Linked DNA regions of Homo sapiens: regions 2, 3, 4, 5, 6 and 7 are each linked to region 1. A link means that fine-mapping ties the variant in region 1 to the plasma level of a protein whose gene starts in the linked region. Region 1 holds a variant in brackets. A gene starts in each other region. All regions are shown on their reverse strands. Distances are from middle to middle. Region 1 overlaps SLC39A8 (solute carrier family 39 member 8). Region 2 holds the start of ITGB6 (integrin subunit beta 6). Region 3 holds the start of MEGF9 (multiple EGF like domains 9). Region 4 holds the start of SOD3 (superoxide dismutase 3). Region 5 holds the start of GFRA3 (GDNF family receptor alpha 3). Region 6 holds the start of SSC5D (scavenger receptor cysteine rich family member with 5 domains). Region 7 holds the start of CLEC14A (C-type lectin domain containing 14A).

What was found. PIP is the posterior inclusion probability: the model's chance that the variant is causal. Protein levels are from antibody-based Olink assays in UK Biobank. Linkage for the fine-mapping came from a reference panel and not from the study's own genotypes, which makes the PIPs less certain.
Region 2: it holds the start of ITGB6, and the variant in region 1 is fine-mapped to the plasma level of the ITGB6 protein (UK Biobank, PIP above 0.99).
Region 3: it holds the start of MEGF9, and the variant in region 1 is fine-mapped to the plasma level of the MEGF9 protein (UK Biobank, PIP above 0.99).
Region 4: it holds the start of SOD3, and the variant in region 1 is fine-mapped to the plasma level of the SOD3 protein (UK Biobank, PIP above 0.99).
Region 5: it holds the start of GFRA3, and the variant in region 1 is fine-mapped to the plasma level of the GFRA3 protein (UK Biobank, PIP above 0.99).
Region 6: it holds the start of SSC5D, and the variant in region 1 is fine-mapped to the plasma level of the SSC5D protein (UK Biobank, PIP 0.98).
Region 7: it holds the start of CLEC14A, and the variant in region 1 is fine-mapped to the plasma level of the CLEC14A protein (UK Biobank, PIP above 0.99).

The regions. Positions count from the first base shown.
Region 1 is chr4:102,265,844-102,269,908 of GRCh38, reverse strand. SLC39A8 (solute carrier family 39 member 8) reads left to right here. Exons shown (of 9, transcript NM_001135146.2): 7 at 1,830-2,037; 8 at 2,235-2,419. Among named protein-coding and RNA genes, the nearest start is that of SLC39A8, 78 kb to the left of the region's middle. RefSeq lists an enhancer at 1,280-2,479. The variant G/A (reference allele first, on the strand shown) is at 2,357.
Region 2 is chr2:160,198,302-160,202,366 of GRCh38, reverse strand. ITGB6 (integrin subunit beta 6) reads left to right here and starts at 2,095. Exons shown (of 15, transcript NM_000888.5): 1 at 2,095-2,364; 2 at 3,109-3,188. The coding sequence starts at 2,304.
Region 3 is chr9:120,712,091-120,716,155 of GRCh38, reverse strand. It overlaps MEGF9 (multiple EGF like domains 9), which reads left to right and starts at 1,686. Exons shown (of 6, transcript NM_001080497.3): 1 at 1,686-2,398. The coding sequence starts at 1,798. RefSeq lists a silencer at 1,149-1,998.
Region 4 is chr4:24,793,084-24,797,148 of GRCh38, reverse strand. SOD3 (superoxide dismutase 3) reads right to left here and starts at 1,576. Exons shown (of 2, transcript NM_003102.4): 1 at 1,498-1,576.
Region 5 is chr5:138,272,247-138,276,310 of GRCh38, reverse strand. GFRA3 (GDNF family receptor alpha 3) reads left to right here and starts at 1,690. Exons shown (of 8, transcript NM_001496.4): 1 at 1,690-1,977. The coding sequence starts at 1,887. RefSeq lists silencers at 1,598-1,687, 1,778-1,967.
Region 6 is chr19:55,487,502-55,491,564 of GRCh38, reverse strand. SSC5D (scavenger receptor cysteine rich family member with 5 domains) reads right to left here and starts at 3,129. Exons shown (of 14, transcript NM_001144950.2): 1 at 2,951-3,129; 2 at 2,533-2,559; 3 at 1,903-2,211; 4 at 1,570-1,683; 5 at 1,157-1,267; 6 at 485-793. The coding sequence starts at 2,975. NAT14 (N-acetyltransferase 14 (putative)) reads right to left here. Exons shown (of 3, transcript NM_020378.4): 3 at 3,999-4,063.
Region 7 is chr14:38,255,502-38,259,555 of GRCh38, reverse strand. It overlaps CLEC14A (C-type lectin domain containing 14A), which reads left to right and starts at 3,463. Exons shown (of 1, transcript NM_175060.3): 1 at 3,463-4,054. The coding sequence starts at 3,534. It overlaps LOC112268136 (a long non-coding RNA gene), which reads right to left and starts at 3,511. Exons shown (of 5, transcript NR_169588.1): 1 at 3,111-3,511. RefSeq lists an enhancer at 3,654-4,054.

The DNA.
Region 1 (4,065 bases):
ATACAGCTATAAAATAAAAAGCCCACATTTTAAGAAAAGATAGAATTTTTTATGCGGATAAGCTTTGTTTCTTAAAATAAAAAAGATTTGATACTTACTCAATGTTGCATCAAGCGTTCAGAAGAGTTTTCTGAGAGGTGGGGAAGTCTCCTTGCGAATTACCTTCAGATCCTATTACAGAGAAGAATTCCCATCCCCGATATGTGTGTAGTAGTAAAGCACTGTTGCCAAAAATGCCCATTCACTCTTTTTTTGTATCTCTGGGTAAGTTTACCAACCTTTTTGTGCTTTAATTTCCTCAACTATAAAATGATGGTAACAGTTGTACTTTCCTCATAGAATTGTTCCAAATGAATTCGGTATTTGAAGTGCTTAGAACAGTGCCTAGCACATTATAAATGCTATGTGCCTTTGCTGTTACTATTTCTACTACGACCACATTGGTGATGACAATGATGATGAATCCTATTACTAACAGTTTCCCATTCATTTCATATTAATTAAAAAAATATTTGCTCCAAATGCTTTTATCTGTGCCTACAAACAAACAAAAATCCAAAGGTGCAGATTTGCCACTAACGAAATAGTAAAGAGATGTATTGCAGGATCTAAGGCTGATTCTGAAAGTGTTGGTCCCCAAAGTGTTTGGAGTGGTGAAGTGATATTGGAGTAACTGTAAAACCTCTTAGATGGTTGCTCTGAAGTAAGCCCCTCTCTGTTGGATATATATTGCATGTTTTTTTTTTAATGTATCCATATATATTATGACTTGTTTCTCCAATGTAAATACACTTCTTGAAGACAGAAGCTGTGTTTTCCATTTCTGTGTATTTCCTATAGCATTCAACAGAGTGTTTTACAAATTTCAGAAGTTCAATAAATGTAATGATTAGCTGCTTAGGTAGAGGTGAGAGGAGGAGAATTAGGAATAAAATGTTCTCCAGTTAATTGCAAAGTGCTTTTGTACTTAAAAATGAATTTGCATTTTATCTTTTTCTACAACTTCTGGAAAGTGTTTTAGTTGGCATTTGTCATTTGATTTTGTACAATTTTGTAAATTTTCTGGAAATCTAAATTCCTACAAAGAGTCCATCACAGGATTTTCTATTTTTTAATTGTTTCTACATGAAAGGAAGTGTTAGTGTAAAGGCTAGCCTGTTCCATTTACACTTCATGCAATTTGTTAAGAAAATAATTAAGCTTTGGAGCTGGTAGAGACCATATTGTTACAGCCTAAACCCTCCACAGGGTACCTGGAACAGAATGGAAACTCAATAAGTTGTTGATAAATAAATGAATCATTTAGTACAATGTCTTCATTTCACAGTTGAAGGAACTCTGTGATAACTTGCTCCCTGTCACATGGTGGCATAGGAGGGGTTAGAACAAATGTTGCTGATGTCATTCATCATGCTCTAGTTGTGGATTTCACATTTAAATTGTAACATAAAAAAGACTTTAAGTTTAGTCTTTGAATAACTTCCTTCATTTTAAATCTTGTGTATAAATAAATTTCTTAGGTTAATATCTGCTACATTTTAGAAAGGCAGTAGGAAGAAGTTTATACAAGTCAAAAGAATTGTTTTAAAGGGAAAGTAAAGGAAAATATCTGTTAGTGGCTTATTCGAGGTGTGTCAGTTGATGAATTTCCTTTCTCTCAACCATAAGTTTTCTTTGCTCTGTTATATATTATTAGGGTTTCCTAGTTACTCTAAAAGACTTTCTGTTGGAACAATTTGTTTTTCTCAAGCACAACCCATCTCCAACTTGTCTGTATTTCTGAGACTTTCAAGAAATGTTGGTTATCATTTTAATTGATTTTCTGCTAGGATGGAAAAAAAGAGCCAAGTTCATGTACCTGTTTGAAGGGGCCCAAACTGTCAGAAATAGGGACGATTGCCTGGATGATAACGCTCTGCGATGCCCTCCACAATTTCATCGATGGCCTGGCGATTGGGGCTTCCTGCACCTTGTCTCTCCTTCAGGGACTCAGTACTTCCATAGCAATCCTATGTGAGGAGTTTCCCCACGAGTTAGGTAAGGAGCTCTGTTCATATTGTAAAAGTCTGCTTACTTCTTGATTTCAGTGGAATGAGACTTTTCAGGTGACATGCTCTTAAAATCCTTCTGATGCACTAAAATGAAGACCTTGTTGGACATTGATGATTATCTTTGATATCATCCAGAAATAAAAAAAAAACTATTCACTTGATATTTTCTTCTTCTTCTTCTAGGAGACTTTGTGATCCTACTCAATGCAGGGATGAGCACTCGACAAGCCTTGCTATTCAACTTCCTTTCTGCATGTTCCTGCTATGTTGGGCTAGCTTTTGGCATTTTGGTGGGCAACAATTTC[G/A]CTCCAAATATTATATTTGCACTTGCTGGAGGCATGTTCCTCTATATTTCTCTGGCAGATATGGTAAGAAGCTTAAAATTTGTATTTTCTTTTAATTTAAAATTTGGAAATGAGTATCTGGATTATAAGTTAACTAAGGGTGGCCTTCTGCTTTCCGCAGTGTGGAAGGCCTTTCTGTTGTAATTCAGAACAATCCCATTTCAACAGATCATTCTACTTGAGTAGTTTACACTAATAGTAATTTGAAACTGATCCTCACTGGTTCTTTAAAACATAATCGTATTGTTTGAAGGTGAAATGATTTGTTTTTGCTGAAATAGAGATATTTTCCTCTATCTCTATTCCCCTTGTGGTTGGTACATCTTGTCTTATGTTATAGTATGTCCCTATAGGACTTTTTCTCCTTTTTCTCCCTCTTTTGTGTCTATGCCACATTTGGAAGAGGAATAACTTATTAGAGTAAATAGCATTTTGTTATTTCAAAGTTCTAAACAGTGACAGCTTTTTGGGTTAAACTAAAACTGGTACACTAAAATTGGTAAAATTTTGACAATAGTTATTTGACATAGTATATATTTATATCTGTTCAATGTCTGTGTCTTTGTATCTGTGTGTATGTGTGTGTTTGTGCTCAAAAGAGCGTGCATGGCCGGGTGCGGTGGCTCATGCCTGTAATCCCAGCACTTTGGGAGGCCGAGGCGGGCGGATCACAAGGTCAAGAGATCTAGACCATCCTGGCCAACATGGTGAAACCCTGTCTCTACTGAAACTACAAAAATTAGCCGGGCGTGGTGGCGGGCGCCTGTAATCCCAGCTACTCGGGAGTCTGAGGCAGGAGAATTGCTTGAACCCGGGAGGCAGAGGTTGCTGTGAGCCGAGATTGTGCCACTGTACTCCAGCCTGACGACAGAACGAGACTCCATCTAAAAAAAAAAGAGTGTGCATGTGTGTGTGTAAGAGAGAGAATATCCTGTGCATTTTAAAATAAATCATGGAAATCTTTCTATAAAATGATAATATGGTAGTGTATGAAAATCAAGGACTATTTCTTTTGCATTTGGAACTGGATGTATTACATACATAATTTAATAATTTGAGTTTTTTATTTGCATTCTTACCTCCAAATTATATTTGTCTAGCTCTGTTCGTTGTTCTCTGCAGACCCTCAGAAGAGCAAGGATTTCATCTCTTAGAACCAATGCTACATTTATAACTTTTGTCACAAAATTAATGTCTCATGCTATCTTATAGTCATTTTACTTTCTGATATAAGAATGGAATCTTACTAGAGTTGTTCAGTTTAAAGAAATAATACTAAGAAATAATACTCATCCTGGAGTGAGCAAAATAGGCACAGTTCAAGGGGCTTTTCCATTCATGGGGCTTTTCCTCTAGAAAGAGGGGATCCTTAAATTAAACAACAAAAAATCACACAGATGACTAAATAATTACAAATAATAAAAAATGCTATGAAATAAGAGAGAAAGTAGAATATATGATGAGAGATGATAATAAAGGAATCTAGAATAAACTAGGATTAGCTAGCAAAAGTGTTTTAGCAAGATATAAGGTAAAACGTGAAGGATTTAGTCCACTGAAAAATTAGAGAAATACAAGTTCTGGTACAGGTGATGGTAGATGTGAAGATTTTGCTGGGTAAACTTGAGGTCATGAAAGAATGGGTTGGGTGAAGCATAGAGAGCAGGTAA
Region 2 (4,065 bases), not on the chromosome of region 1:
GTCCCAGCCACGATTATCTCTGTTCTTGACAGAGACATGCATTCCTCTCTTGCCCCATTCACCTTCCAATCTTGCCGCATACATTTTCACTTCCTCAGCAGCCAGTGTGGTTCTTCTAAAATGTAAATTAAATAGTATTATTTCTCTACTTTCAACTTTCCAGTGATACACAAGGTATAGAATAAAATTCAAGGTCAAGACTACATATGATCTGACCTCTGCCCTCAAATCTGATTACCCTCTCTCTCTCCCTTCTTGTATTCCACTTGCCCTTGAAAACACCTGCCATTGGGCTGTCTCAGGCCTTCATAGTTAGCTGTGTTGTCAAAGTCATCTAGGGCTCTCTCAGATGCCAGTTGGTCAGGGAAACCCTCCCTGACTATTCTAAAGAAAATCACACACTCCCTTGCCCCTCTTTCCTTTTACCCAGACTTATGATTCATAGCCCTGGGCACTGCCTGATTTTAGAAGTCTATCTCCCTGCACTGCCCTCCAGCCTAGAATATATGCTGCATGGATCAAAAACTTGGTTGTGTTCACTGATGTAGCCTCTGCTTCAAAAATAATATTTGACAGAAAGTAAATGCCCAAGAAGTACTTGTTGAATGAATGAATAATGAATGAATAATAGTTAATACTGGATTTTTAAAATGACAATAACAGAGACACAAACAATTTGTGGCTCGATCTTTCTTCTTCAAGTTAAATCAACTAATTTTATATAAATTTTCTCTCAAAATGCATATCTTCCAATTCTTCAATAATTCTGGATTGTTACCGCAAAATTCTTGCCATGTTTTTCCAGCTTCTTGGATATGATGGAGTTCAAAATTGAACATAACATAGGCTTCTGAGAAAAGCCTAGGTAGTCTATAATTAGTTTCTCTCTTTCTTTGGTTTTTTTTTTTTAATTATTTTATTTTAGTTTTTATTTTTGTGGGTATATAGTCGGTGTATATATTTATGGGATACATGAGATGTTTTGGTACAGGCATGCAATGTGTAATAAACACCTCATGGAAAGTGGGGTATCCATCCCCTCAAGCATTTCTCCTTTGTGTTACAAACAACCCATTTATAGTCTTTTAGTTATTTTTAAATGTAGAATTAAATTATTATTGACCATAGTCCGTTTCCCTCTGTTTACAGGTTTCACATGCTTACCCAGGAATGCTCCTTGAAAAGATAATCTCCTCAGACATAAGCCTGGCCACAGAAAAGTCTCTCTAAGGTCAGCAGTTTCTAGAGTGACGAAGTGAGAATTCGATTCTTATCTGTTCACAGACTCTACAAATCTCAAAACACCTTCCTGAAGAACACCCTGGGGGAAAAATACAAAAAACCTCATGGATTTAGCCATAGATCATATATATTTTGAATTGTCACTCTTTCACTCAACAAATAAATATCTCCTATGTGCCAAATCATGAGCTAGAGGTTGGAACAGCACATTGCATAGAGAACTTGGTCCCTAGCCTGAGGGATTCAGAATCTTGGGCACCATCATTTCTGTTTTCATCATTGTTGTCATCAGTGTCTTTTGAGACATTCTTATTTTGATCTCCTTTGATTTTTATATATTATGATTATTTCCAATATAATTTTAAAATAAGAATTTTATACTTATGGAAAAATATATTTCATCTAATTTGAAAAAATAAGGAAACAGTGCTTTGCTTTCCCTAGCCTTCCTTCTCATTTACTGTAAGATAATAATTTTTCTTTTTCAGGGTTCGTTTCAATTTTTTGCAAAGGATTTAGCAATGAAACACTAAAATCTCAGGCATTTTCATTAAGCTCATTTTTTACTTTCCTCATATATAGCCTATATGCTTTATTTAATCTTTATTCTTTACATTAAATTAAAATTATTTTTAAAATGACTATATTTCTATTGCTGTTGTGACTTTTCATTGATCAATATTTCACTAAAGATATTAACTTTCTCTAGGATGCAGAGAGACTCATAGAACTTACACCAAAATTTCTACTGAATGAATTTCCCCACCTTCTTGGTGATTGTACACCTGCCTTCCTTATAAGGAGAACAAGGAAGTAAATCATGTTGAAGTTGCTTTTAAACACAGCTTTTCTGCTTTACCTGTCCAGGTAGCCTCTGTTTTCATTTCAGTCTTAATGAAAACTTTCTAACTTATATCTCAAGTTTCTTTTCAAAGCAGTGTAAGTAGTATTTAAAATGTTATACTTCAAGAAAGAAAGACTTTAACGATATTCAGCGTTGGTCTTGTAACGCTGAAGGTAATTCATTTTTTAATCGGTCTGCACAGCAAGAACTGAAACGAATGGGGATTGAACTGCTTTGCCTGTTCTTTCTATTTCTAGGAAGGAATGATCACGTACAAGGTAAGACCTGCGTTCTCTGATATATTACTTTCGTGGTATGCTTGACAAACCTGTCATTTGGTTCAGAAACTAGATCTGAAGTCATGTTTTATTTGATCTGTTCCATTGCTCTTTTGTGACTGAGTGAACACTTTAACAAATTACAGACAAACACCGGGCAGTTCCCACAGTGAATGCTCTAGGCTTAAGGTAAATAAATACAAAGGTTGCACAGGCATTTTAATGAGGAGAATTAAATAACATTACTGCCCAATGGAACTTAGTGCCAGTATGATAACCATTTTTGAAACTTTTCTATTTTATTCTACCACAAGATCTTCCACTTAGGAGTAATAATCTTGAAAGAGAAAGAGGATTTATTTCAAAAACAGAAATAACTTGTTTAAGAAAGAAGCATTTTTTAATGGTTGCAAGTAATTTTTAAAAATTAAAGTGGCACACATTGGCTAAGAATAATAAATAGGATAATCCTATATTTGTGAACTTTCACATTTTAAGAAAAAAGAGCATGATAATTTTGGCTTATAAGACATACATAATTTTTAATATACATACACATATTTTACATGTGATAGATGTAAAATACAAACTTTTATGTGAATTGCTAACATTTCGAGGACTGATTTTGGATACTAAACTAAACTTTGATGTTGTTTTGTTCAAGTAATGTAAGAGCCATCAGTCTCATAAATGGAATGACTGAAAGTGTACTTAATCCCTGCATCTTGCTGGGTCTAAACCTAGGTGGCTGTGCCCTGGGAGGTGCAGAAACCTGTGAAGACTGCCTGCTTATTGGACCTCAGTGTGCCTGGTGTGCTCAGGAGGTAAAATAAATGACCTCAATGTGTTTTTAAAACCTGTCTGCAGTTAAATTCATGTTAATTTCCTCAGTGATATTTCTGATAGTGACTTGCTTTTTTGTGGAGTTGTATAAGTAAAACAAATCAGGAAAGGAGAAGGTGAGCATTGGTAGATCAAAATGGCATTCATGTGATTACTTTCAAAAACAATTTGTAGAAGGAGTGGATGTCAAATAATTCGGAAAAAAATTTTAACTTGGGATTTTTTTATTTTACCTGGTTCCTTCTTTTATTGTAAAGCCATTTCTACAGGTTACATGTAAAATATGGAGGCTGTCTGGATAATCAGAGTTCATGGAGATGATATTTTCTAAAGTTAAACATACATTTGATGTTCATATTATAGTTGTATTCCCTCTGGGTACCAGGATCCATTCTGAACTACTGCTAGATTCTAAGGGATGTGTTTTAAGTTTGGGGCAAATATTACTGGTCAGATATTATCCAGTTCCTTTAAAAATGGCATTTTCATAAACTCAGTGACTCTGTACCACACCAGTGACAAAGTGCCAAATAGGAACTCCTTATCTGGTCAAACCGAAAACTACATGAAAGCAGTATGAAGATGATTGGGGACTATGTACCAAGCCATCCTAAGACACTAGAGAATGATGTCTAACTGATTCATGGTAAGGAAGAGAGGCATTAGCTTTCTGAATTTTAAAACAAGTCTCTATGCACTGGATCTCATAAAGATAATCTAAACATAAATCAAATCATACGAATACCAAGTGCAGCAAGAGCTGAGTAGCATGCTCAAAGAGCAACAAACCTCGACACCAAACTCAGAACTGGGTTCTACCTGTGGAAACCCAAACTCCGAGTTCAGTGTGTATCCATG
Region 3 (4,065 bases), not on the chromosome of region 1:
ATTCCCGCTGTCTTATATACATAGACCTATCAAGACACACCCATAGATAACCACAAATGCAAAAACACAGAAAATACACAAAAACACACACCAGTACACATGCACAGATTATTAAGACACAATATATGAAAATAGATACTAGCTCCCATACTCATAAACTCACACAGATACATACAACACTCATACACACAGACTCACAAACATGTTTATGCATTCATACACAGCCTCCCCCACCCACTACTCATGCAGGAAAATAAATGCATGCTTTAATTAACATACACGGGTTCACACATAAATCTCATCCTGCTGGTCTGGTTGAAGACCAATGACTAATGGGAAACCATGCACAAAGCCAAACATCACGTAGGGGAGGCCGGGATTGGGTTAGCAGTGGGGCTTGAATTAAGCCCCATCAGATGACAAACCCGCCCTGCCTGGCTTCCTCTGGAAGCTGCTGAGCCGAAGCAGCAGCGCCTGACCTAGCTCTGGATCCTGGGCGGATGATGCGAGGCTGCGTGCCCGAATTCCAGCTTGATTCAGGGTTTAGTGTCATCCAGGGTCAAGCTCGGCTATTAGCCCCACCCCAACCCCTGCAACCAGCCGGAGGCTCTGGGGGCACTGAAGGGCTGTGGCCTGGGGCTGCTTTCTAATCCTGGGCTTGCCCTGGCGCAAATGCTGAGAATAGTTAGCATTAATGAGGGTTACAACAGTGGGCCAGGCTCTGGGCTAAGCCCTTTACGTCCATGACTTAATTCTCACAACAGCTCTGTGAGGGGGGTGGGGGGTGAGGGGTGTCCTATCATCTCCATTTTAGTGGTGAAAAAACCGCGCTCAGGCCACAAAACCATTCAGCAAAAGACATCAAGTTGAGGTTCAACCCTGTCTGATCCTATTCTTCCCGGGGTTTAGGTAAGTGTGCTTGCGAGCCTGTCTCCTCCACGCAGGAAGCTTGCACCTTCTGCCCTCAGGGGTCTCCACCGCCCGGTCCCGCCCCCTTGTCCAGTCTGGCACAACACCTGGCCCACAGCAGGTTTCTGGTGAGGGCGTGGGTCTCGGTTCAGGGAGGCCCTCAGCAAGGGCCTCAGCTTCCCCATCTCTGAAATGGGAATGGCGGCAGAGACCTCGCAAGGCTGCGACCAGGCTCTCTGGAGCAGCAGAGGGCATGCCAAGCTCTACATCGTCGCTGCCGCTGCCCTCTCCCATCGCGGGGTTCCCGCGCGGTCCCCGCCCGAGCTGGGGTGCGGCGCTGGCGCCCCATTGTTCAGGAGGGCGGGGATGCTCCCGAGTGCTGATTCCACCCCCCGCTCGTGCTCGCAGCCCGGTGGAGCAGATGACTAGGCCCGGCGTCTGCCGCGCGGGGCGCATCCTTTGTCTGCTCCGCGGCGCCCGGTGCCCGAGGCCCGCGCCCCACTCTTTGGGCAGACAAAGCCGGGGCCGCCGCGAGCCCGGCGGGCTAGAGCTGGGCTCGCACCACCCTTCTCCCGCCTCACGGACCGCCCCCTCTCCTGGACGTCCTCTGATTGGCCTACGGGGCTACAAAGAGGCCGGGAAGCGGGCGGATCACGTGGGCGACTGTGGCTTCCCATTGGTTAGGCGCGGCTGCCAATCGAGGAGGGCGGGCGGTCCGCGCTCGGTCCGGTCGCTCCCTCCGCGCTGGGGCCCGCCCGCGGGGCCGGCCGCCTGTCAGAGGGAGGTGGCGATGGTGCGCCCGGTGGCGGTGGCGGCGGCGGTTGCGGAGGCTTCCTTGGTCGGATTGCAACGAGGAGAAGATGACTGACCAACCGACTGGCTGAATGAATGAATGGCGGAGCCGAGCGCGCCATGAGGAGCCTGCCGAGCCTGGGCGGCCTCGCCCTGTTGTGCTGCGCCGCCGCCGCCGCCGCCGCCGCCGTCGCCTCAGCCGCCTCGGCGGGGAATGTCACCGGTGGCGGCGGGGCCGCGGGGCAGGTGGACGCGTCGCCGGGCCCCGGGTTGCGGGGCGAGCCCAGCCACCCCTTCCCTAGGGCGACGGCTCCCACGGCCCAGGCCCCGAGGACCGGGCCCCCGCGCGCCACCGTCCACCGACCCCTGGCTGCGACTTCTCCAGCCCAGTCCCCGGAGACCACCCCTCTTTGGGCGACTGCTGGACCCTCTTCCACCACCTTTCAGGCGCCGCTCGGCCCCTCGCCGACCACCCCTCCGGCGGCGGAACGCACTTCGACCACCTCTCAGGCGCCGACCAGACCCGCGCCGACCACCCTTTCGACGACCACTGGCCCGGCGCCGACCACCCCTGTAGCGACCACCGTACCGGCGCCCACGACTCCCCGGACCCCGACCCCCGATCTCCCCAGCAGCAGCAACAGCAGCGTCCTCCCCACCCCACCTGCCACCGAGGCCCCCTCTTCGCCTCCTCCAGGTGAGTCCGGCGCTCCCTCTCGGGCAGGACCCGTCCTCACCTCAGCCCCGGCAATCTAGGGTTGGGCTCTTGCCTATAATTTATCGTTTGTTACCCCAAAGACACCCCAGGTTCCGGCTCCCGAGGGGGGATCCCAGGTCCAGCTAGTCTCCCTCCCGCCCCCGATCAATCTGGAAAGTCTTTTGTCCCCCGTGGGCTGTGCTCCCTCGGGAGGGGGTGGCTGCTGGGTGGAAGGCATCTCATCTTCTTCCCAACAGGGCTTTCTGGCCTTTTTCAGAGACCAGAATGGGCGCAAACTTTTGGGTTGGGTTCGCGCACCCAGCCTCTCTGCCTGGGTTATTTGGGGAAGTTTGAAAGCCCGCATAGTACCTCCTTCAACCACTGGGTCAAAAGCTGAGGGTAAGGAATTCCTCCCAAAGCTCCAGTTTCCCTGTTCATTTCTTCTTGTTTATGTAAATATCAGATGTGTGTGTATGACAGGTGGAAGAGAGGTAGTGAGAGGATTTTGTTTACAAACAGTAGTATGGACCACTTGAGGGCAAAAAATAAAAACAAAAAAGGCATTGTAATCCATGTTGTCCCTGCAAATAAGTGGATTCAGTAGGTCATTTGGGACAGGTGTGTATCTAGGCTGAGCACATTTACAAATTAGGTTAAATCTCTTCCTCGCACCATTTTTTTCTTCCACAATTATAAGGTCAACATGTTTGGCCAAATACACCATTTAAGCAAGGATGCCTATTTTTGTCTCCTTAAGCCAGGATGTTCAACTTTGCTGATGCTGATATATGCCAATTTCTGTTTGAGCCCACGTAGAAAAGGCTTTTCTTGCTGAAGTCTTCAAGCAAAGTTAAAGACAACTCGTATTCTTTCCCCGTTTAAATCTTAAGTGGGCCTAGGACTAAAACAAAACAAAACAAAAGCCTACTTTGTCAGAACGTTTGGACAAAAGTTTCTGAATTGTCTTGCTTTGAGTTGGGGTGGAGGTTTGTCCAAATCCTTTGTCTAGCTGGGTCTCTGACCTAAATCTTAGGCTTAGTGATTTACTGTGGAGTCAGGTATGGACTTTGGACTATAATTGAGTGTGTAGAGAATTTTCCCACATGGTTATGAACCTTAATACAGTCTTGATCCTTGGGTTGGAGCTTGGCAATGACATAAGTAGGATTATTCACCCATAAAAAGCCAAGTGTGCATCTCTTCCAGCTTCAAGGAATGCATTAGCTAGCTGGGTTTTACCTGTAACCCCTTTTGGCTTTCATATAGAGAGATTGACATATTACTGAGAGACAGGAAGCATAGTGGTTGAGAGTATGGACTCTGGAGTTTATTCTTAGGTTTGAATCCTAGCTCTTCCCCTTGTTAGCTGTGTAAGCTTAGGCGGCTCACTGAAGCTCTTTGGACTCAGTTTCTTTGATTGTGAAATGAAGATAATATTATAGTAGTACTTAACTCATAAGGTTGCTGTGAAGACTTTTTTTGTTTTTGTTTTTGTTTTTTGAGACAGGGTCTGGCTCTGTTGCCCAGGCTGAAGTGCAGTGGCACAATCTTGGCTCACTGCAACCTCTGCCTCCCAGGCTCAAGCGATCCTCCCACCTCAGCTTCCTGAGCAGCTGAGACTACAGGCGTGGGTCACCACACCCAGCTAATTTTTTGTATTTTTTGTA
Region 4 (4,065 bases), 77 Mb after region 1:
TAGCTAAGAGATGCTATGGACACTGTGAGAGGAGGTCCCCTTGAAAGGCTCCAAGAAGGAGGATCCAGAAAGAGGGAGAAGCAGAGAAAGTGATGTTGAAGGACTCACCTAAATGACATGGCCCAATGTGGTACTACTACCCCAAAGCCCCAGGGAGTAGGCAGGAAAGTGGGGTAACTCTCCTGCCAGACCTGGACATGAAGTTCCCCATCATCAAAGACACCTTCCTCCTAAGACAGCCCTGCCACTCAGAAGGGCTCTGCTGCTTAGAAAGTTCTCCCTAAAAGCACAGAGCAAAACCAGATTGTTTTGGGTGTGTCAGTGAGCTTTCTTTTTCAAGAATCCTTGGGAAATAAACATTTTAAGGAGATGTTTTTCTCTGAAACCAAAAGAAGAGCCAGGCATGGTGGCTTATGCCTGTAATCCCACCCCTTTGGGAGGATGAGACAGGAGAATCATTTGAGTACAAGAGTATGAGACCAACCTGGTAGAGACCCCCATCTCTAGCAAAAAAAAAAAAAAAAAATAGCTGGGTGTGGTGGCATGTGCCTGTAGTCCCAGTTACTCAGGAGGTTGAGGTAGGAGGATCGCTTGAGCCCGGGAGGTAGAGGCTGTAGTGAGCCGTGATAGTGATCGTGCCACTACATTCCAGCCTGGGTGCTGGGTGACAGAATGAGACCATGTCTCAAAAAAAAAAAAAAAAAAAAAAAAAAGAGAAGAAGGAGGAGGAGGAGGAAAAGGGGGAAAGAAAATTCTCCCTCAAACCCAGGTAAACTCTGACTTCTTGTTTCTTAAGCCTTTGACACCTCTTCCCCTCGGGACCAACTTGATTCTTCTCCCACAGCCTCTTGCTCAGTTTGAGCTGTGAATGACCAAGTGCCTTTTTAAGGGCCTCCTTTGTACGTGGATCTGGAAGGGAGGACGGTGTTATCAGAGAAAGAGGACAGTGTTATCAGAGAAAGAGGACAGGGGCCCTTATCCTGAACCAAATAGAGGCACCAAGCCTTTATCTCCTTCCTGGGTCTGTATCTGGGAAGAACCTGCCCCTCTTGAGCCTTGGGTGTGTTTCATCCCTCAGCTGTCTCCTAGAAGGAGCTCTTGCTGGGAGCCTGAGCTGGCCAGGGCCTCTCTGCTTTCCTAAGGAGGTGGCTTTTTAGAGTACCTGCTGTCCCATAAGTGGCTCCCGACACCAAAGCCATGCAACATCTAGAAAGGCCCCCTTTCTCGTCACTCCAGATTCCTTTTCCTAACACTAAAATCCTCTTGGACTGGTCTTTGCAGATCCACAGGAGGAACGGTTTCTTCCTCCCCTCCTTGCCTTCCTCCCCGCTCACTCCACCTCCCCACTAACCCCTCAGAGCAGCCAGGGAAAGTACATTTCCTTCCCAAGAAGATGATCCAATTTGTTCCCAAGAAGAGGCCCGTTGCCCCAACCCAGCTTCAGACTCAATAAGCACACTCCGAGAAGAACAAAATGAACCTCAACTTAGCACCCACCTTTCCAGCTCCTCCAAGAGAGCTTTCTCTCCTGAAAAGAGAGCTGCACCCAGCCAGCCCAGGAACGCAGGCTGTCCCTGGAGCCTGGGCTGTTAGCGCGAGTGCAGGAGGCCAGCCCAGAGGAGTGGTCAGCGTGAGGGAGCCAGTCATTGGGCCAGTTCAGGGAGGAAAAGCAGGCCAGACCTCCCCGGGTTGTAGAATTGCTTCGCCTCCACCTCCTCCCGCTCTGTCCCCACCTCCTCTGCCCCTCCCATTTTTGGGTTTTCGGGCCAAGGATTCCATTCCGCGACTTCACCGGCTTGTAGCCAGTGACCTTCAGCACACAGCAGGGGAATAAAAATGAGAAAGAAAATCGCCTGTTTGGAGAGGTGTACAATGACCTCTTTATTGAGAGGCCCTTTGCTTTTCTGTAAGTCAATAACTTATTGACTTATTTTTGCTGCATGGAAATGGGCACCTTGCAAATGTGCGTGGCATTTGCTCCAGAGCTGTGCTGTCATACCTATGAGAGCAGAGCAGCGGGTGGGTCGTGATGACACACTCAGGCTGCAGAGTCCCAGCCTTGTCACTTCCTATCTGTGTACGCCTGAAGCAGCTGCACCACTCCCTGCACCTCCTTTTCATCATCTGTAAAATGGGGGTGTGAGGCTGTCCACCCCGCACGCCCACCGTGAAGATCCAATGAGATCATTACTCGCCCAGTGACAACACAGTGGCTGGCACTAGCCGCACTCATAAGTAATCATCATTGTCATTGTCGTTACCGTTATTATTAAAGAGATGAAGGAGTCTTTTTAAAAAATGTGTTGTCTGGGAGAACTAGGAGTGTTTCCCTCCCGACGTCTGTCCTTTTTTTGCTGCCATGAACTTTTCTCAATCATAGCAGCCCTTTCCAAAAATAGAAGCTCTTCTTTCCCAGAAAAGCCCATGTGGGAAAAACCAGGCAGCCTGCTTGCTGGCCTGCCCGTCCTCCTGCATTCCTGCAACAAATGTTTATTGGGTGCTCATCCATTCCAGTCACCATGCTGTATGCCGGGCACCCACAGCTGCATGAGTCACCTTGGGGGTTCATACTCTGGGGACGGAGACAACAACGTCAGTAAATGCATCCAGTACAGAGTGGGGAGCGCAGCGACGAAGAATGAACAGGGCCTCGTGAGGTCCCAAACACCCGTTTCGGTGGCAGGAAAGCTTATAAAAAATCTAAATCTCTGGATCCCACCCCAGGATGGGTGACTTAGTTACCAGCAGGAGCTTCCTAGAATCATCTTGGAAAAACTCAAACTAATGATCTTTATCCAGGGACAGGCATTCTGCGAGATAAGAGGGAGACTTCCCAGAACTGAGACTCCAGCCCTTCCACCCTACCGTCCTTCCTTCTGGCCCGCTGAGAACTCAGGCACCAGTAGCTCAGTCTTGCACCTCTGCATTCTGTTGGTAGGCGTAGTTATCCTCAACTAATGAGTTTTCAGAGTTCCCCATGCCACCCACCACCCCACCCCCACCCTGCAACAGTCTAGTTCCTTATTGTGAATCTTTCTTCCCATTTTTAAAACATTTATATTTTCATTCAGTTCTTGAAATCCTAATTATATACATTCATAGCTACTATTTTAAATGGCACTTGCTTCACTTGGCCTAATTTTATTTCGTTTAAGGTCCAAGAAAGCACGTCTCCGTTCTGGTATTCTAGGACTTGTGCTAAAGCCTAGATTTACTTTCATTTTGATGGCATTCTAGAGGAAATCTGCCTTTTTCTCGCCACCGCCCCCAACCTCCCCACCATGGCAACATTCATTCCCTCTTCCTTTGGTAACAACATCCCAATTTCCTTTCTGAGAAACCACTATACTTTCAGTCCAGCAGGTGGTGTTGACTTCATCTCCTGCTCCAGAGGTAGCTTGTGGCTTAGGTATGATAAATCGTACTATTGCACTGGTTCAGGGATGATCCACCTTCAGAGCCAATGAGATGCAATGCCACTTTTCACTGGGACTGTTGAAAGAGATGCATCCTCTCTTTCTTACTGGACTTGAAACTGGAGAAAAAAGGCTGGAGTTATTGCAGCCATCATGCTCCACTAAGGGAGAAGCTGTCTGAGGATAAGGCCAATGCAGAAGGCTGTGGAATAAAAGTAGAGTGAGAGCTCAGTGCAGTGGTATACGCATGTGTAGTCCCAGCTACTAGGAAGGCTAAGGCAGGAAGGTTGCTTGAGCCCAGGAATTCAAGGCTATAGTGTGCTATGATCACTTCTGTGAATATTCCACTGCACTCCAGCCTGGGCAATGTAGCAAGACCCTGTCTCTAAAAAAAAAAAATGGTAGAGTGAAATCTGAACCCACTGGCATGGGTTCAGATGCTCTATTTTCATTATATGAGTCGATACATTCTCATTTTGCTTAAGGTGTTTAGGTTGAGTTTTCTGAAGTTGCAGCTGAACACTTTATGAAGCACTTTCTCATATAGTATCGTATTTAATGCTTGCAATACTTTTTGTGGGGTGGATATTAATTTGGCAACTTTGTTTATAAGAAAATAAAGTCCAGTAAGAAAAGGTAATGGACCCCA
Region 5 (4,064 bases), not on the chromosome of region 1:
ACCCTGAGCAAACTTCCTTTCCCAAACCCTCTTCCTGCCCATAACATGATTTGGCTTGGGCTGGAGGAGGGGGAGGGCAGAGGAGACACCCCTTGACCACCTCACATCTTTGTTGGTTCATGGGTCTCAGCCCTTTCCTATCATCCCAAAGAGCCTGAAATTGTTACATTTTGCTTTATAAATTCCTTTCTTAAGTATTGTCAGTTTCAAAAAAAAAAACCCAAAAAACGATTGTCTGCCTGTAATAGCAGGTGTGAGAGAAAATGAGGTGCCTGGAGCATATTTCTCTCTGGCAATGGGGTAGAGGGCCTGACATCATGGGGCCTTTAATGGTAGCCCCCCAGCTTCATGTTCCCTCACCTTTCTGGAGAGGAGGGCTTGGGAAAGGCACATGGAGATAGGGTGGAGCTGGGGGAAAACAGGCCTTGTACAAAAGCTGAGTAGCCAGATGTTCACTTTTACAGCTCTTCTGTAAAACTGGCAGGGCAGATATAGATTAAAACGAAGGACAAACTCCATTTAAAGTGCATTACAGCTCAGGAACCAGCACCCCCTGGGCAGGAGAAGGGAGGGAAGGGCACAGAGGCCACATCAGTCTCCTTCCTTATCTAGGGCCACATGTCTCTCTCCTAGCTTTGCCAAGGGTGATTTACACCCCCAGCTGGAATGACTCTCTTTCTGGGCTGATTACATCGGCAAATGCCCCCCAGAGGCCACAGCAGGATGGCCATATTCAGAAGCAGCAGCCAATAAATCTCAGAGGTTTATATTGCGATTCTCAGTACTCCCTGCTGGCCCTCTGCCAGGCTGGCTGTGGAAGTAAGGAGGGGGTCAAGTTAGAGGGTTAGGGGATGAAACCCTCCACTTCCTTTCATCACCCTCTTCTCCTTCTCTCTTTCTATGCGCTGCTTAGTTCTCATTCTTCCAAGCCATTCTGCTTCTGGCTTTATCCTGGGATCTTGTGGGAATCAGGCCCAGGCCCAATAAATACCCTTATCCTTATGGGTAGACGTCCTGTGTTCTGGGCACAGATGTGTTTCTACCTAGTTGTTTAATCCTGATAGAGTAGCTTGCTCTCCGAAAGTCTCATCATGTGAAAAGGATGGGCTCCTAAATGGTCTCTCCAGGCACCTTCCTCAGTGAGCTTTGGTCCAAGGAAATCTCTGCTATTTAGTGGAGAGTTTAATCTTCCATCTTCCCTCACGACACCATCGGGGCTGAATTTTGGAATCTAATGCCCCAGGTCTGCTCCCCCAGCAAAGCCATTCCACCTGTCTGCGACCCATCTTTGCAGCATCTTGAGCTTAATAACCACCCAATCTTACCCTAGAAGACACTTAGGAGAGGAAAAAACGAGATCATAGATGTGCAAATTCTAAGAAAAATACTAGAAATGCAAGTGCCCTTGTGTTGGCTTGTTCAAGTTTTGTTACAAAATCTCTTTTGTGGTGGTGTCTGTTCTTTGATGTGTGGGTGAGTGGGATCCAGAAAGTGAGAAAGGGTGCTTTTCTTGGAGAAATATTTGGTTCTCCTAGATGGCGAGTTTCCAGCGGCAGCTTCCACAATGTCTTGCTAGTCGAACTTGTCAGACAGCAGGTGGGCCGCCTCGGAAAGAGCAACCTCTTCCGCACCAAGCCCGGCGGCTCCCGGGGCGCCGGCCCTCCCCCGCCCCCACCCCCGCGGTCCCTCGGACCAGCGCTGGAGGCGCGTGGTGTGGACGCGCGCTTCGGAGTTGGAGGGCGGCGCCCAGGACCCTGGTGGGAGAGTGTGTGCGTCGCGCTGGAGGGCGGGAGGCGGGGGCGGGAGGTGCCGGTCGAGGGAGCCCCGCTCTCAGAGCTCCAGGGGAGGAGCGAGGGGAGCGCGGAGCCCGGCGCCTACAGCTCGCCATGGTGCGCCCCCTGAACCCGCGACCGCTGCCGCCCGTAGTCCTGATGTTGCTGCTGCTGCTGCCGCCGTCGCCGCTGCCTCTCGCAGCCGGTGAGTGTCAGAGCGCGCACCGGCCGGGGGTACAGTGGGAGGGGGAGGTGAGGTGTAGGCGAGGCCCGGGGCACCTGTCCGGAGAGGGCGCAGCAGCCTCCCGGTGCATCCGAGCCGAACAAGGGGAACTGGAGCAGGAAGCCCAGGGTGCCTGCAAGGGGCTGGGGTCACACCTAACACAGTGTACGAACTGAGATAGACTGAGTGCCAGCAATGGCCTGGCCACCCAAGCATCTCCTCCTCGCCCCTTTTTCCCCCCTCTTCCCTCTTTTGAGGTAGGTCTACACAGTCACAGAACAACCCACAGCCAGGTCACTACCAAGACAGCGTCTCTAAGAGGCGGGGAGAATCAGATCAGAAACAGAGTGTCATTTGCTCCACGTGGGCTTTAACTCTTCCATCTGCTTTAAGGACTGAGGAAGAAACTAGGTACAGGTGAAGAAAAAGAAGTTCGTTAAAACTGACTTGTTTCATAACCTTCTACAATAGCAGGCCTTGCAAGCCGTCTAGCACAGTGGCTTGCCCCTTGGATAATAAATAATCCACAATAGATGTTTTGTAGATGTAGTTCAAGGCCTGGTTTTAGAACCAGGCCACTCCCCCAAGGAAGAACAGCCTGGGATCCGAGATCCCTGGAAGGCCCATGGCCTTCGTGAGTGGTATGGGTGTGTGGAATCTTATTATGCGGCTCCTGCCCAGAGACTGAATGGAGGGACTCCTGAGACAGAGAGACCACCACACTGCCCTGAGACCTCAGTCCACAACGCAGTGCTGTAGAAATGCTGCCTTGAGACAGATATGGAAGGAAGGAGGAAAAACCCTGGTCTGTCCACCTGCCAACATCAGTAAGTCAGGGCAGCAAGACATCACCAGTCTGATTTGACTGCCCAGGAAATTTCACTAATCCTAAAGGTTATGGCTGCATGTCAGGATCAGGGGAAAACATTAAACACCTTTCTCATTAAATGGTTTAATGAAGCAGTGTTGGTGACAGATCTATTTTCCACAGTAATACTTGACAGCAATGACATCTGGTTAAGTAGCCTCATTGAAAATCCATAAAACAGTCATCTAGGAGGTACCATGTAGAGCCAAGTGCTCTTCAAGAGCACAGACCAACAGAGGGCTTTGGGGGTGGAAAATATCATTGCTCAGGGCCTGCTAAAGCCAAGCATATAGGAGACCTCCGATTCATGGGGAAGTGGTGTCATGTACTGAAAATCATTCTGAAGTGGATAGGAGGCTGGAGTCCTGGGTTCTAGCCTTGACTCGGTCTTGACTTGCTACATCCCCTGGTGCACATTACTTTTCTTTGTTCATCCAACTATAAAATGGATACCTGGGTTGTGGGCCTCACTGATGAGAAACAAATGAGGATCTTGTGCCCTGAGGCATAGCCTGATCTGACCCATTCTGTAGCTACTCATTCTCTGATGAGCCAAGAAGCAGAAAACAAAGTTACAAAACCAGGTTGCTAACAAATCAATATGAAATAGACGTGGCAGTGGCTGTATAAATGAGGAGGTGGGGCAAGTAATAGAAAGTGGTATGGACTATAACAAGCTGGAAAAGGCATGACTTGTCAAAAGGGGGCAGTCATTACTCCACCCGTTACATGTGGGCCCGAGTGTTTCCATTTTTCAAGACAAATTGGAAATTAATAGTTTTATTTGAAATCTGATTTTTTTTTTGAGACAGGGTATCAATCTGTCACCCAGGCTGGAGTTCAGTGGTGTGATTCCAGTTCACTGCAGCCTCAACCTCCCATACTCAAGTAATCCTTCTGCCTCAGCCTCCCCAGTAGCTGGGACTGTAGTAGTGTGCCACCACACCTGGTTAATTTTTGTATTTTTTGTAGAGACGGGTTTTTGCCATCTCGGATGCCCAGGCTGATCTTGAATCCTGGGCTCAAACAGTCTGCCCACCTTGGCCTCCCAAAGTGCTGCAATTAAAGGTGTGCGCCACCGCACCCGGCCTAAAATCTGATTTTTAAATGTTGGCCACTAATTACAACTTTAAGAAAATACTGGCTGGGTGCAGTGGCTCACACCTGTAATCCCAGCACTTTGGGAGGCTGAGACGGGTAG
Region 6 (4,063 bases), not on the chromosome of region 1:
GCCCCCAAGTCACCGCCCTCCCTCCCTCCTTCCCACCAGCTCCCTTGAGGATGGGGAAGGAGCAGAGGTTGGCCACAGAGACAAGAGGTCTCCGAGACGGTCCCCTGCCATGGCCAGCCCGGTGGCAGAGGGCAGGCAGGGCTTCTTGCGTTCCAGGACTTGGCTCAAGCCTGAGGCAGGCATTCTTAGCTCCATCGCTCCTTCAGGAAAACTGAGGCTTAAACAAACGGTCACTGGCCTAGGCCCCGGGACAGGGCTGAGCACTAGCCCAAGCCTCAAGCCTGCTCCTCCCATTCCTGGCAAGGAGAACGGCAGGAGCTGTGGAAGGAGGGGCTGGAGAGCGTGGTGAGTGGGCGCTGGGCATGCAGAGAGCAGGCGGGCAGGAGGCAGAGCTGGGAGCAGGCCCGCTGCAGCTTCCTGGAGGGGCAAGAGGGAGCTGGGGTCTGAGGAAGACAGGAGGGGGCCAGGCCCCAGCCCGACGTACCGGTGCAGACCAGCCCCGCATCCTCGCTGTGGTCACAGTTGCTCCGGCCCCAGGGGCTTCGGGGGCAGTCTCGGAGGGCCTGTTCTCCTCCTCCACACCCCACATCGTCCATCCACACGGGCCCTGCACCAGGCCCGAATCTGGCACCGCCGGGGGCAGCCAGCGCCCCCCCACAGCCCAGTTCCCGGCAGGCTACAGCAGCGTCGCGCAGGTCCCAGCCATCGTCACATACGGTGCCCCAGCGCCCGCCGTGCCAGACCTCCAGGCGTCCGGCGCACCTGTGGGGGCCAGAGACCAGGCGCAGCCGCTCTGTGGGGTGAGCAGGGAGGGGACGGTGTGGCCAGTGAGAAATGATTCAAACACCCCTTCCTCGATTTCCACCTGGGGAAACAGGCCTGAGGGAGCGGTGGCCTGAGATCTGTCCGCCGGCAGCCCGTGAAGAGGTGAGTCCACGACCTGAGCGGGCCAGGACACCTGGGCCTCCTGACAGGGCAGGAAGAAGAGGGGAGACCAGGCCTGGCCGTCTAAATCCCCGGGGGAGGGACGCGGGGAACACTGGGATCCCTCCAGGGCCCCGGCTAAGGAGAGGGCGCCCGCAGGTCCTCAGTTTTTCTGGGCCCTGGGCCTCACAGCAACCAGCCTTGGGGTCGGGGGAGCCTGCAGGGAGCTTACCTTGGCGGGGGGCTCCTGTCGTCAGCAGAGGGGCCCGGGTGGACTTGGCCTGCTTGGGCCGGGGGCTCTTCTTCCGGGAGGCGTTCTGGGGGTTCCCAGCTGGGCGGGGGGCTGGGAGTGGAGACAGCCAGGGGTCAGGAGCTGAGCCCCTCATCCTTCCTCCCACCTGGGGGCCCAGGCCTCCGTCTCTGAGGGTCTGAAGTGATGGAGGACTCCCTAGGCTATGAAGGAGACGGGGCGGGGCAGGGGGCGGGCTGTGTGTCCCCTGGGAGTTCATACTGCAGAGGTCCCTCTCCCCTCGGTGGGGGCAGGAGGGCACGCTGGGTGGGGGTTGGCAGGGCAGTCCCTCTCCCCTCGGGGGGGGCAGGAGGGCACGCTGGGTGGGGGTTGGCAGGGCAGTCCCCTGGGCTCACCATGTGTCACCAGGGGCTCCTCCGTGCTGGGGCTCAGCTCCAGCAACAGCCCTGGCCAGGGAGCCCCATCCAGGGGAGATGTTGAGTCGTCCCTGGAGTTAGCCACACGCTGACCTGCGGCGGGGGGGCAGGGACAGAAGCTATGAGGAGAGGAGGGGAATCCAGGCCATTTGGGTCCCTGGAAGAGGGAGTTAGCCACCTGGCTTTGGAGGGGATGGGAGGTTGGGTGTCTCTGAACTGCTGAACACTCAGACTTGCTGGGGCTAAGGACTTGGGGTTCCTGGGTCATCTCCAAAGGAGCTCCCCCTGAAGGAGCAGCCAGGGTGTCCTCACCTGCGCAGACGACGCCCGCGTCCTCCTCGTGGGAGCAGATGTGGGCCTTCCAGCCCCGGTGGTGGCAGAGGCCCAGCTGCCCCTCGTTGCCCCGGCAAGCCAGCTCGCTGAGCCACACAGGCCCTGCCCCCTCCCCGAAGAAGGCGCCTCCCGGGGCGGCCAGTGCCCCTCCGCAGCCCAGCTGCCGGCAGGCCACGGCGGCATCGCGCAGGTCCCAGCCGTCATCACACACGGTGCCCCAGCGCCCGCCATGCCAGACCTCCAGGCGGCCAGCGCACCCATGGGGGCCATCGGCCAGGCGCAGGCGCTCTGAGGGTTGGAGGAATGGCTGTGACTGGGGAGGGGCATCCTGGGGGCCCCAAGGCCAGGGCAACTGTAGGGGCAGGTGGCTGTCCTGCAGGTACTGTCTGTAGGCCAGTGGCCCTGCTCACTGGCCCCTGGGCCCAGACTCCTGGGTGCTCAGAGAGATGCGGCCAGACACCTGGGGGATTCCCTTGCGGAGCTGGGGCCAAGGTCACAGTGGAATTCGGATGGGCCGGGGACCCAGTGGGGGTGAGGCCAGGCCTGGATGGGCAGAAGGGGGAGGCCTGGGGGGGGGGGCGGGCAGATGGGAGGAGTCTGGGCACTTACCAACAGCCTGGATCCCCACCAGGGCCGCTGGAAGGGAGGGCGGAGGGTGGGGCAGTGTGAGGGGCAGGCCGGGGGTGGCCCTTTCTCCAGCGCAGGCCCCTCATCTTGAATACCCCAACACACACACACACACACACACACACACACACACACACACACATGGGCTTGGCTAAAGGTCAGATGTCTGGGAGATCCCCCGCAGGGTCAGGGCTGGGGGGCGGGCAGGGGGCAGGTCCCTTGGGCTTCTGGGCTGGCAGAAGGCTGGGCAGATTGAGCAGGGATCCTCAGAAGGGATGTCAGGGTATGCAGGAGCACCAGCGACCAGTCCCGGAAGTTTGAGTCCCTAAACTGGACAAGCTAAGGGGTCAGAGGTGGGGGCCTAGGCCCCCCGAGTCCCCAAGGAGAATGGATCACTCACCAAGGAGGCAGGCCAAGACCCTCATGGTTGCAGCCAGGGCAGGGGATGGGGTGAAAGGGGAAGGAGAGCGGGGAGAGAAGAGGAGGAGGCAGCTGGGGAGAGAGGGAGGGAGGGAAGTGCCTGCTGGAGGCGCCCAGGCCCGAGGAGGAGCAGGCAGGGCTGGACGCTTTGCCAGGAGGAAGAAAGAGGCTGCAGGGAGGCGGCAGGGGACGGTGGGGGGGAGGGGGGGCGGGAGGGGGCTGGCCGTCTGCTGAGGCATGGGGGGGAGGGGGGTGGCGGGCGGGAGGGAGGGTGTCCAACTGCAGACACCCACACGGGAGATGGAGACGACGGCCAGGCAGGCTCCAGCCAGCAAAGTGCTGTGCCCAGAGATGCTTAGGGGGTGGCCGGCTGCAGGAAGGCACAGGACAGGGGTTGGGGGACGTGTGCGGGGGGGGCGCAGCATGAGCGGGAGGGGCGCCCACCTGCTGTCTCCCCTCTTGTCTGGTCAGGGAAATCCAGTGAGACCACTGCTAGGGTTGGGGGCTGGGCAGACCTGGGGTTCTTGGTGCAGCAGCAAGAAGATTTGCAGCCAGACACCAGGAGGGACTTCCTGGGTTAGGAAAAGAGACTGAAAGACCCGGCCCTCCAGTCCTCCCACTCACTGGTGGATCTGAGTGTGAAGCCCCCAGTCCCCAGCTGAGAGAGGAGAGGTTGAACTTCACTGTCCCAGAGGGAGCTGGGGTCGGGGGATAAGCAGCACAAGGGTCAAGGCTTGGGAAGGGGAGGGGCTCCACACACTCTTCCACACACTCACACACACACACACACACCCCACTGCCTGCACACCAGGCAGCTGTGAGGCGGAAAAAATTCGGTAATGGGGAGCGTGACTCAGAAGGGCTGGCAGGGCCTCGGGCTGCCCCTGAGCTCACAGCCTCCCCTTCTCCCAGTCCAGCACCGTCCCCCAACAATTAATGTTAACTGGGGAAAGGAGAAGCCAGACAGAAATGGGCGGGGGTGTCCGGAGACAGACTGGGAAAGCCATCAGAGAAGAGACAGGCACACAGCGGTTTCAGGCTTTATTAACAAACGGTGTAAAAAACCAGACGGATCTGGAGGAAGGGACAGGGC
Region 7 (4,054 bases), not on the chromosome of region 1:
AGTTCATGTCCTTTGCAGGGACATGGATGAAGTTGGAAACCATCATTCTCAGCAAACTAACACAAGAACAGAAAACCAAACACCGCATGTTCTCACTCATAAGTGGGAGCTGAACAATGAAAACACATGGACACAGGGAGGGGAACATCACACACCAGGGCCTGTCAGGGGGTGGGGGGCTAGGGGAGGGATAGCATTAGGAGAAATACCTAATGTAGATGACAGGTTGATGGGTGCAGCAAACCACCCTGGCACGTGTATACCTATGTAACAAACCTGTATGTTCTGCACATGTACTCCAGAACTTGAAGTATAATAATAAAATAAAGAAAATATACTGAAAATATATTTTAAACATAATTAACATTTTGATTTTATTTTTACTTTTCATTTTGAAACTCAACCACTCAGAATTAAATTAATTTTAATTCCTGCTTCATGTCCATTCACTTATTTATCCAGATATAGCCATTTTGATTTATTTGTTCATTACTAATTATTTATTTTTAATAATGGAATAAAGATTCCATTATTTGGGTAGTGACACAAAGCCACTGCACAAAACAAAAGCTAGGACTCTATCAACAGCCCATATCAAGCCTGCTAGTTCCCCTAACATTCCATCCTTCTCTTTCCTCTCACCCAAAAGGCGCATCACTAAGAATCTTATGTTTATTGTTTCTTTTGTCTCATTTTATTGTAACTATTTTTCTAAAGAATACACAAACATATATCTAGTACTGTTCTTTTAATTGTATAAAAATGTCAGACTCTGTATCGTTTTTGGAACTTCTGTCCATTAACATTGTATTGCTAAAATAAATTCATATTGTTACTTGCCACTATATTGTACTAATTTTTACTCCTATATAATATTAAATTAGTGAATATACTACAGTTTATTTTTATACTGTTTTTGGATATTTTGATTGATTCAACGTTTTGTTAATATGAATAGTGTCACTATAAACATTTTTTACATATCTTCTGTTGTACATGTGCAAAAATTTCTCTTAGTTTTATACCTTATCATGGAAGTGCTAGAGTTTGCAAATATTCAATTTTAGTGAAAAAAAGTGTCAAATTTTTCCAAAGTGGTTGCTCTAATCTGTAACATGTAAAAGAGCCAATAGATTCACATTTGGTATTATAAGATTTTTAGGCATTTGGAATCCAGTGGGGGTAAAATGGTTCTATATTATTATCTTAATAAATATTATTAAAAAATAGAAACTTTCCTCCATTTCTAATTTGGTCAGATAAACTGTCTATTTCAAACTAATTACAAAACTATTTACGTCCTACTTTGAGCTAATTTTTTCTAACTCTTGTGTCATTCCATGATATGGTCATGGTCATGGTCAGTACTCTCATATAGTCGTTATGGCCAATGTGTTCTCTGCTATAATCCCACTCCCCTAGACAGAATGTCAGGGAGTGAGATCATGTATTTACTTAAGCTTTCCAGCTATTCATTCTTTCTTACTGTAGACACCTCATCTCATCCCAAACGATTTTTAAAGCTATCTAAGAAATTTCCATTGACTACTTAAGTTTGAAAAAGATTTTATTAAAAATATTGCACTACATGGACACATTTACAAACACAGTCATAAGATTGCAATGGTCTATAGAGAGCTGGCCCAAGTGACTAAGTATTTTTTAAAAACCATTCAATTTGATTTCTGGATTTTCATGTTTCTTTCTTATAAGACACTAAGTTACCTAATTTAAACGCAAAGCCACGTTTAAGGTGATTCTCAGACATCTGAAGGAAGGACTAAGGAATGTTCTTTAAATTGGGAAATAGGGCAGGAGAGAAATCCTAGTGCAAAGCTCCATACTCAGCAAAAGCAAGGTAAGTATGATGATGACTCATAGGCTTACTGTTGTTTGTTAAGATACATGGAATTTCCAGGAGGAAAGAAGAATGAGAGTTATGGTAAAAATAAGATGGAAGCATACAGATGTGATCCTGAAACCTTCCCTCCCACCCCTCATCAACCTGAATGCAGTAAAACAAAGTGAGCTTATATGCATTATCCATGGAATGGCAACTTTCATTCTGATTAAAGATATTTAAAAGCATCAGACATCTCTAAGAGGGCTTAGCTGAAACTCTCTATGTATTTCTGATGGCAACGTATTTGGCCATTATGAACCAAGATAGAATGTACGTTTTCTAAACTGATACTGAATTGTCTAAGTTGCTAACAAGAAATCCTTTCATAACAGTACAGTTTTTAACCTTTACTTCTTTATTCATCTTTAATTCCTTGCCACTTCCCACTGAGTTGAAATGTTTATATTAAAACAAAACACCCACTGGAATTCTAAAGAAATTGGCTCACCCATCTTTCAAATTACAAGATATTTTTTGACAGTATACAATATTCATTATAATGGAATAAACATTTTAATTTCTTAAGGAACTCTAATTTTCCTTAAAGGAGATGTTTACAACTTACTATTATAAATGCTGCCACTCAATCATAGGAGAAAATGATACTAAAATAGTTCAAGGCTAAAATCACACATAGGGCAGTTGTTCTCGAATATTTATAAGGCCACGAACTCATTTATGTATAACCTATAAACTTGAAGAATTTTTGAACCAATACAGTGGCAAGGAAAGCTAACAACCTAACTGTTAAGATCTATGGTCATTATTTTTCATTTAGTCCTAGAAATACATTTCCTTTCTGTAATGAATCAATATGGTCTAACTCAAAGAGAAACACGTGGAAGTGAAAAATAAATTTCTAAAGCAAGTGCTGATGGAAGAAGCAGAATTTCCCATTTAAAATACCCAAACAACTCCAAATTCTTTAGTAGTTAGGACTCCTGAAATCTCTTGACATAATAGAGAAGCAAAGACCCATAGAGAGATATGCGGTTAAATAGTGCTGCCTCTGGTGGCAAAAGCAGTTGCTAAGTTGTTTCACAACATATTTTTCCCCCACAGGCACAGGCCCCCCAAACACTGGAGCCGTCTACGAATTATTCTGACGCTAACTCCACAGCTCCGGACAGAAACACAATAGACGGGCGTGGTCTTATAATCATAAGCCAGTTCCTTTCTCAAGTCCTTCCTGCCTATGTTCGCTTACGTGTTATGGGTTCTGCGGTCCTGATGAAACTCCCTGAACGGAGAAAAACCACACACTTCATCCCAGTGGCGAATTTCTCCTCTTGCTCTAAGCAGGGTGTTTGACCTTCTAGTCGACTGCGTCCCCTGTACCCGGCGCCAGCTGTGTTCCTGACCCCAGAATAACTCAGGGCTGCACCGGGCCTGGCAGCGCTCCGCACACATTTCCTGTCGCGGCCTAAGGGAAACTGTTGGCCGCTGGGCCCGCGGGGGGATTCTTGGCAGTTGGGGGGTCCGTCGGGAGCGAGGGCGGAGGGGAAGGGAGGGGGAACCGGGTTGGGGAAGCCAGCTGTAGAGGGCGGTGACCGCGCTCCAGACACAGCTCTGCGTCCTCGAGCGGGACAGATCCAAGTTGGGAGCAGCTCTGCGTGCGGGGCCTCAGAGAATGAGGCCGGCGTTCGCCCTGTGCCTCCTCTGGCAGGCGCTCTGGCCCGGGCCGGGCGGCGGCGAACACCCCACTGCCGACCGTGCTGGCTGCTCGGCCTCGGGGGCCTGCTACAGCCTGCACCACGCTACCATGAAGCGGCAGGCGGCCGAGGAGGCCTGCATCCTGCGAGGTGGGGCGCTCAGCACCGTGCGTGCGGGCGCCGAGCTGCGCGCTGTGCTCGCGCTCCTGCGGGCAGGCCCAGGGCCCGGAGGGGGCTCCAAAGACCTGCTGTTCTGGGTCGCACTGGAGCGCAGGCGTTCCCACTGCACCCTGGAGAACGAGCCTTTGCGGGGTTTCTCCTGGCTGTCCTCCGACCCCGGCGGTCTCGAAAGCGACACGCTGCAGTGGGTGGAGGAGCCCCAACGCTCCTGCACCGCGCGGAGATGCGCGGTACTCCAGGCCACCGGTGGGGTCGAGCCCGCAGGCTGGAAGGAGATGCGATGCCACCTGCGCGCCAACGGCTACCTGTGCAAGTACCA